Regions from separate parts of the Homo sapiens genome. Here region 1 is linked to region 2. Evidence: fine-mapped expression QTL. A gene starts in region 2. The other region holds a variant in brackets. All regions are shown on one strand. Distances are from middle to middle.

Region 1 (4,386 bases), 24 kb before region 2:
GGACACTCCCTTCTGTGGACCACAGGAAAGGCTGTGGGAACAGAACTCCAGCAGGGTGTGTGACCCAGGAGGGAGGCATTCTTATTCGGGGGAGGAATCACATGGACTCCTGGAATTCCTGGATGAAGACACCTGGGCTGCCTCAGCCACAGGACCTGCTGGAGCCACACCTTGGACCTGCTGGGGACTCAGTCGTTGGTGCAGGGCTCTGTACAGATCCAGACAGAGAATGGGCCCAATGGAGACTCTGGGATGAGCGTGCAGGGGACGCAGCTGTCAGATCCATTTCTAATAGCAGCCATGAAGATGAACCCTGACCTTTGTGAAATGCTTCGTACTTACCAAGCATTTCCACCCGATTTATGTGAGGCAAAGATTATCAGCCTCAATTTAGAGACATGCAAAGTAAAACTAAAAGACCTTAAGTAACTTAAGGACCGAATTGGTGAAAAATGTGAGACCCAAAGAAAGATATTGAGGTGGGTTTAAACTATCTCTGCAAATTTTTTTGACACTCCTCTATTCAAAAGGGGCCAGGTGCGGGGGCTGACTCCTGTAATCTTCAGTGCTTTGGGAGGCTGAGGTGGGAGGATTGCTTGAGCCAAGAAGTTCCAGGCTGCAGTGAGCCATGATTGCCACTGCACTCCAGCCTGGACAACAGAGCGAGACCCTGTCTCTAAAAGGGGTGGTCTAGGCTGGGCACGGTGGCTCATGCCTGTAATCCCAGCACTTTGGGAGGCCGAGACAGATGGATCACCTGAGGTTGGGAGTTCAAAACCAGCCTGGCCAACATGGTAAAACCCCATCTCTACTAAAAATACAAAAATTAGCTGGGTGTGGTGGTGCGCACCTGTAATCCCAGCTATTTGGGAGGCTGAGGCAGCTGAATCGCTTGAATCTGGGAGGCAGAGGTTGCAGTGAGCCGAGATTGTGCCACTGCACTCCAGCCTGGGCAACAGAGCAAGACTCTGTCTCAAAATAAATAAATAAATAAAAATAAAATAAAAGGGGTGGTCTAATTCTCAACACAACCATCCCCCCTGCCACTATTGTGGGCCGGAGTGACTGACTAGCATCTAGCAAACAGCATGTGACTTTCCTGGTGTGTGTGTGTGTGTGTGTGTGTGTGTGTGTGTGTGTGACTCTGTCTCCCCCTGCCCCATCACCCCCAGGAATCCAGTGCCCCAGGTGTGAGGAGCCCAGGCTGAGTGTCAGTTTCACTGCCCTCCAGCACCAGCGATCAGAAGCGGAAGAAGCCTCTAGACAGCTCTGCTCCTGGGCCTCCGAGTCTTCCAGCTGAAGCCCCAGATGTCAAAGGGCAGAGAGAAGCCATTCCCACCGAGTCCTATCTGAATTCCTGACCCACAGGAACCAGGAGTCACAATAGCTGTCATTGTTTTAAGCCACTAAGTTTGGACACTACAGGGCAACAGGTAAACCTATAATTAATATGCAAAGTGACAAGCATGCCAATGGAAAAAGATGCACGGTGATTCCAGGGCCCAGAGGTGAGAGGACCTCCCGCTGGACAGGACAGGAGAGGTTCTTCAGGCTCATTCGAGCTGGGTTTTGAAGGCTGGGTAGGGCTGTGATCGTTTGGAGGGAAGGCACATGAAAGCACGCCAGGGAGAAAGGCACAGAGGATTGGAAGTACTTGGGGTGGTGGCAGGAAACCCACGTTATGACAATACGGTTCCAGCCTTATCATCTCGAGTGATAGAATCAGCCTAGGATTCCAGCAGGGAGTGACATGGTCAGGCCTGAATGCAGGTGCTATTTTTTTTTTTTTTTTTTTTTAGACAGGGTCTCACTCTGTCACCCAGGCTGGAATGCAGTGGCATTATGGCTCATTGCAACCTCTGCCTCTCGGGCTCAAGCAATTCTCCTGCCTCAGCCTCCCAAGCAGCTGGGACTATAGGCGCACATGACCGCACTGGCCAATTTTTGTATTTTCAGTAGAGACGGGGTTTCATTGTGTTGCCCAGGCTGGTCTCGAACTCCTGAGCTCAGGTGATCTACTCGCTTCAGCCTCCCAAAGTGCTGGGTTTACAGGTGTGAGTCACCACGCCCGGCACTGCACCTTGTTTTCAAGGAAGATATCAACTTCCCCATTGGAGGGAGAGGAGGAGAGAGAGTGGACTGGGAATGGTCTTACTCCCTTGCCTGTGGCCCCTGTTGTGGGGGGAAGAATGAGAGATCAGACTGCTACTGTGTCTATGTAGAAAGAAGTAGACAGAAGAAACTCCATTTTGTTCTGTACTAAGAAAAATTCTTCTGCCTTGAGATGCTGTTAATCTGTAACCCTAGCCCCAACCCTGTGCTCGCAGAAACATGTGCTGTGTTGACTCAAGGTTTAATGGCTTAGGGCTGTGCAGGATGCGCCTTGTTAAAAATGTGTTTGCAGGCAGTGTGCTTGGTAAAAGTCATCGCC[A/C]TTCTCCATTGTCGAGTACCCAGGGACACAATGCACTGCGGAAGGCCACAGGGACCTCTGCCCAAGAAAGCCTGGGTATTGTCTAAGGCTTCCCCCCATGGAGATGGCCTGAGATATGGCCTCGTGGGAGGGGAAAGACCTGACCGTCCCCCAGCCCGACACCCGTAAAGGGTCTGTGCCGAGGAGGATTAGTGAAAGAGGAAGGCCTCTTTGCAATTGAGGTAAGAGGAAGGCATCTGTCTCCTGCTCGTCCCTGGGAACGGAATGTCTCGGTATAAAACCCGAGCGTACGTTCTGTTTACTGAGATAGGAGAAAACTGCCTTATGACTGGAGGTGAGACATGCTGGCGGCAATACTGCTCTTTACTACACTGAGATGTTTGTGTAAAGTCAAACATAACTCTGGCCTATGTGCACATCAAGGCACAGCACCTTTCCTTAAACTTATTTATGACACAGAGCCTTTGCTCACATGTTTTCCTGCTGACCCTCTCCCCACCATTACTCTATAGTCCTGCCACATCCCCCTCACCAAGACAGTAGAGATAGTGATCAATAAATACTGAGGGAACTCAGAGACCAGTACTGGTGAGGGTCCTCCGTATGCTGAGCGCCGGTCCCCTGGGCCCACTGTTCTTTCTCTATACTTTGTCTCTGTGTCTTATTTCTTTTTTCAGTCTCTCATCCCACCTGACGAGAAATACCCACAGGTGTCGAGGGGCTGGCCCCCTTCACCCTGTGATCGACAGGACAGAGCTGGGCACGCAGGCTGGGATTCACGGTGCAACCTGCAGCCACGGGGTGGAGAAAGGAAGCCACGTCGCCAGGAAGGCAATGGCATTCAGAGCCTTGGACTCCTTAATTGATGCAATGACGGCAGCTCGGGTATCCATAGCAATTGTGGAACTTGAAAAGTTTTACTTTAAAAAAGTGCATCTATACATCATTTAAATTTTGGTGCCAATGTAGAATCGGAAAATCGAGTCTTAACCAATCAAAATTCACGTGCCGGCCCCTTCCTCCAGGTCATTCCTCAATGGCTAGCCTTGGAACTTCTCAGCTAAATATGCATTGTTGTGGGTATTTAATAATATCCATAATTAAGTTAAATGGGGGCAACGACAAAAGCCTCCGTGCTATTATCCTCCCCAGAGCCTGGGGCCGGGAGGCCCATTGTCATAGAAGGAAGCCTTGAATATGGGCTCCCGTCCTTCATGCAGGGCCACTAAAAGGAAGTTTCCTTGGCAGGAGAGGCTGTGGGAGGCCCAGCATCAATGGTTTCTTCTTTCTCCTCTGGAAGCTTCACCCTGTTTCTCTTGGCAAAAATGCGGTTTATCTCCACAAATGTTTTGCCCTTGGTCTCCGGAATAACCACGTAGATGTAAATCGCAGTGAGGAGGCAGATTCCGGCAAAGATGATGAAACTGTAGGCACCGATGGCCTCCTAGACCAGGAGACGAGAAAGACAGGAGGGGGCAGAGAAAGGCAACAGTGCTGATTCAGCTGAGCACGTTGGCTCATGCCTGTAATCCCAGCACTTTGGGAGGCCAAGACAGGTGGATCACCTGAGGTCAGGAGTTTGAGACCAACCTGGCCAACATGATGAAACCCTGTCTCTATTAAAAATACAAAAATTAGCTGAGCATGGTGGTGTACACCTGTAATCCCAGCTACTTGGGAGTCTGAGGCAGGAGAATCGCTTGAACCCAGGAGGTAGAGGTTGCAGTGAGCCAAGATCGCGCTACTGCACTCCAGCCTGGGCAACAGAGCGTGACTGTCTCAAAAAAACAAAAACAAAAACAAAAACCCCAAAACAAACAACAAATAACCAATGCTGGTCGAGGCCTTTGTGAGTCCATAAAGGAGTTGCTTGGCAGCCAGTTTTGTTTCACTCCTGGAGGAATGATATAGCTAGAAAACTGTGATCACTAAAGATTGTTTGCAGGAAAAAAAAA
Region 2 (4,386 bases):
TCTCACTCTGTCACCCAGGCTGGAGTGCAGTGGCATGATCTTGGCTCACTGCAACCTCTGATTCCCGGGTTCAAGTGATTCTCCTGTCTCAGCCTCCCGAGTAGCTGGAATTACAGATACCCGCCACCATGCCTGGCTAATTTTTGGATTTTTAGTAGAGATGAGGTTTCACCATGTTGGCCAGGCTGGTCTTGAACTCCTGATTTCAGGTGATCAGGTGATCCACCCACCTCAGCCTCCCAAAGTGCTGGGATTGCAGGCGTGAGCCACCGCTCCCAGCCCAGGAAATATTTTTACTAATTGTGTGACTTCAGGCAAGTTACAGAACCTCCAGAAACCTTAATTTCCTCATCAGTTATGGAAACAAGATGTACCTTATAAAGAATGTGTTAGCATTAAATGTGATTAAGTGATGGTACATTGCTTGACTCGGAGGTTCCATCCATGGTAATAATTGTAAGTACACTAATATATGTATATATACGTAATACACAAACAAATGTAATACAGTGTCTGTAGACATGCTAATATATGTATACAAGCGTAAGCATAGACGTATACCAAGGTCAAGCCTGTAGTCAGTTCTCAGTCCTCATCTGAGCTCATCAGCACAGGCTGTCCCTCCCTCCTTGACTCTCATCCTTTACTAGGTTTTGGGGACATTCTGCCCTCAGGGTCTTCCACACCTGCAAGGGCCCCTTCTCTTTTTCCTTTTTTCCCCTTTGCCCCAATCCCTAAATGCCACAGAGTTCAATCTTTGACCCCATTCTCTTTCCAATCAACAAGGGGCCTACCCAAGGTGAGAGCAGTGGGACCTGAGGCCCAAAAAGACTGGGCTGGAAAATGGAACAGGTCCCCCAGCATCCCAATGTGCCCGGAAAGGACGACACTCCAGGGGGAAACACCTCCTGCCACGCCCTGGTCTCCAGGGGTGAGCATCCAGGGTACTAGGGCAAGCTGGCTGCTCCCAAAGGCAAGATGGTGCCTCCTACAGGCAAGATGGCAGCCTCCACGGAGGAAGATGGCGGCTACCTTCCACCCACGACCCCGGTCAGCTGCTGCCCGGCCCACCTTGTGCCCACCTTGTGCCCACCTTGTGCGGCGTGTTGACCACAGAGAGGTTGTAGCCGTACTGGAAGGCTGAGCCAAAGGCCGCGCTCAGTGTCGCCAGCAACAGCGTCGGCTGGAGCCGCTGTAGGAGACAAGTCCAAGGTCGGGACGCTGTGGGCTTGGGCCTCGGGAAGTGGAGTGGCTGGGCCTCCACCTCCCTCCAGCCTGGGCTGGAAGTGGGGGATGGGGGATCCCAGGCCGTGCCCCCGGAAAAGAGGAGGAGGTGGCGCAGGGCTGGGGCTTTTGGGGGCTGAGGTCTCTGCACGCATTCATTCCCTCCTTGAGGATGTATCTGAGCATCTGCTACGTGCCTGGCCCTGTACTAGGCCCTGGAGGCCAAGTGTGAAGTAGGGGATGCTTTAGGAAAAAGGCCCAGCAAAGCACTGCCTTTAAGAAGCTCACTTTCTAGTGAGGGGAGCCCACCCCGTCCAAGAAAGACAAAGATGATAATTCCAAATAGCTAGAATGCTGTGAGGACAATAAAATAGGGTGATGGGTGGGGTAGCAGCCTGTGAGGAATGAGAGACTGTGTTCAGTAGGGTGGGCAGGGCAGGGAAGGCCTCTCTGAGCAGGCGCCCTTTGAGCCGGGACCAGAATGGATGAGAGGGAGCAGCTGTGTAAGCATCGGGGGGAAGAGCATCCCAGACAGAGGGACTCATTGCTTGCCTCTGCCTCTAGAACAGGCCCTTAGGAAAATCCCGGCAGTCGCCTGTGCTCAGGGCCAGGCTTTCCATGGTTGCCACAACACCCAGGGCAGCTTGGAGGGGAACTGGCCTGAGGGCCAAAGTCTGAGGAGCAGGTGGGCAGGGTCTCTGACCATGTCCTAGAGCCAAGGCCCTGGTGCATGCCCCCTCCCCACTGCCCCCTCCACCCCTCACTCCTGTTCCACATGTCCTCACCCCAACCCTCACACTTAGCTGCCTGGCTGCCCACAGCCCGTAGCTCTGCACATCCAGGAACAACCAGACAGAAGGGCAGGATTCGGGCATTCTTCAGAGGCCATCTCCCCTCGATCTTTAAGGGTAGGGGAAGCGGAGGGGAGCAGGGGTGGAAGGGAGAGAGGCATCTCCAGCACCATCCGCTCTCCCAGCATTCGCTCAGCCACCCTGGCCCATGTCTGAGCCATGAGGTTTGAGCATAGCTGCTTCTCCACATGGCTCTCCCAGGCCTGGTTATCCTGAAGAAAAAGGAAGCACGCTACCCGCTCCTTGCTAAAAGCATTCCACGGCCTTCACCTCCCTCCACAGGTCTGCACAGCTGGTGGGAGAGGGACAGTGACAGGTTCCTAGTCTTGGCACTTACCCCCTCCCTGGATGGAATGGGTGGAGGGGTTCCCGCCTCTTTGTTCTCCATCCTTGTTCAGGTGGGAGAACAGGTGTGCTCTACCTCCCAAGTGACACCTGCTCTGCGCCAGCCACCTAAAGACCGGCTGTTTCTCCCCTGGGCCTACCTGGCTTTATGATCCTTTTGCTCTCTGGACCCTGCTGACTTTCCCCAGGAGCAAATTCTCCTTGGAAATGTTGATAAGACACACGTTGCCAGTGCACAAATCATACACAGCACGAATTTCGTCTTTGCACCCACCAAGCCCCAAGCCGAAAGCTCCCTAGTTGCACCAAGGAGAGAGAAAAAACATTGCCTGACATTGGTCCGCAGAAATGAGGACTTTCAGAGACCCAGTGAGGCTGTGACCTGGATCTAGGATGCTTTTTCTGTGTCATTTTTCCATGTATGCCTCTTTTTTTTTTGAGACAGGGTCTTCCTTTGTTGCCCAGGCTGGAGTGCAGTGGCGCAATCTCAGCTCACTGCAACCTCGGCTTCCTGGGCTCAAGCTATTCTCCTGCCTTAGCTTCCCAAGTAGCCGGGATTATAGGCACGTGCCGCCACACCCAGCTTTTTTTTTTTTTTTTTTTTTTTTTTGAGGTGGAGTCTCGCTTTGTCGCCCAGGCTGGAGTGCGGTGGCGCAATCTCAGCTCACTGCAAGCTCTGCCTCCCGGGTTCACGCCATTCTCCTGTCTCAGCCTCCTGAGTAGCTGGGACCACAGGTGCCTGCCACCATGCCTGGCTAATTTTTTTTTTGTATTTTTAGTAGAGACGGGGTTTCACCGTGTTAGCCAGGATGGCCTGGATCTCCTGACTTCATGATCTGCCCGCCTCGGCCTCCCAAAGTGCTGGGATTACAGGCGTGAGCCACCGTACCCAGCCTTTTTTTGTGTGTTTTTAGTAGAGATGAGGTTTCACCATGTTGGCCAGGCTGGTCTAGAACTCCTGACCTCTAGTGATCCGCCTGCCTTGGCCTCCCAAAGTGCTGGGCTTACAGGCATGAGCCACCGCACCTGGCTTTTTTTTTTTTTTTAACTTTTATTTTAGGTTCAGGGTATATGTGAAGGTTTGTTACATAGGTAAACTCGTGCCACGGGGGTTTGTTGTACAGATTATTTCATCACCCAGGTATTAAGCCCACTTCCCAGTGTTTGTTTGCTGCTCCTCTCCCTCCTCCCACCCTCCAGCCGGAAGTAGATCCCAGTGTTTGCTGTTCCTTTCTGTGTGTTCCTAGGTTCTTCATATATGCCTCCTCTTGTGCATTTGGACTAATTGTCCATTTGGGGGAAAGAACAAATTAAACACTTTCAGAAAAACACAGTTATTATTTCTAATTACACTAAATAGTGTTAAATAAGTCAATAAAATATTGGACAAAGGTGCTTATTTCAGAATCATTTCTACTAGCATTTTTTTTTTAAAGTAGAGAATGATTGAATAAATTAGGAGTAACTAATTGATTGGAATGCCAGACTTCTGTTTCAAAGGATAATTATGAAATGTGGGAACATGGAAACATTAACATGTTTTTTAATTAACATGACCTTTAAGAGAAGTGATCAAAGCAGAATACACATAGTATACCTGGGGAAGGCCAGGGTGCGGTGGTTCATGCCTATAAGCACAGCACAATGAGAGGCTGAGTGGGTGGAGGATTGCTTGAGCTCAGGAGTTCAAGACCAGCCAGGGCAACATGGTGAAACCTCATCTCTACCAAAAATACAAAAATCAGCTGGGCATGGTGGCATGCCCCCGTGGTCCCAGCTACTTGGGAGGCTGAGGTAGGAGGATCACTGGAAAACAGGAGGCTGAGGCTGCAGTGAGGCATGATCACACCACTGCACTCCAGCCTGGGTGATAGAGCGAGAACCTGTTTCAAAAAAAAAAAAAAAAAAAAAAAGGATACCTGGGGGAAAATGTGTTTGCCCATGGGTGGTAACAGGTGGGTAAATG

Direction of the effects. Positions count from the first base shown, and alleles are read on the strand shown. Sizes are in standard deviations (SD) of each study's normalised expression.
In carriers of allele C in region 1, the expression in prostate of the gene that starts at base 2,541 in region 2 tends to be lower than with A alone (moderate effect, 0.57 SD a copy in GTEx).

Evidence for each region. PIP is the estimated chance that this variant, and not a neighbour inherited with it, causes the effect.
Region 1: its variant is fine-mapped to the expression of SLC2A7 in prostate (GTEx, PIP above 0.99).

What each region holds. Positions count from the first base shown.
Region 1 is chr1:8,999,644-9,004,029 of GRCh38, forward strand. It overlaps SLC2A7 (solute carrier family 2 member 7), which reads right to left. Exons shown (of 12, transcript NM_207420.3): 12 at 3,330-3,875. The coding sequence ends at 3,657. Among named protein-coding and RNA genes, the nearest start is that of SLC2A7, 25 kb to the right of the region's middle. The variant A/C (reference allele first, on the strand shown) is at 2,432.
Region 2 is chr1:9,023,883-9,028,268 of GRCh38, forward strand. SLC2A7 (solute carrier family 2 member 7) reads right to left here and starts at 2,541. Exons shown (of 12, transcript NM_207420.3): 1 at 2,413-2,541; 2 at 1,094-1,192. The coding sequence starts at 2,463.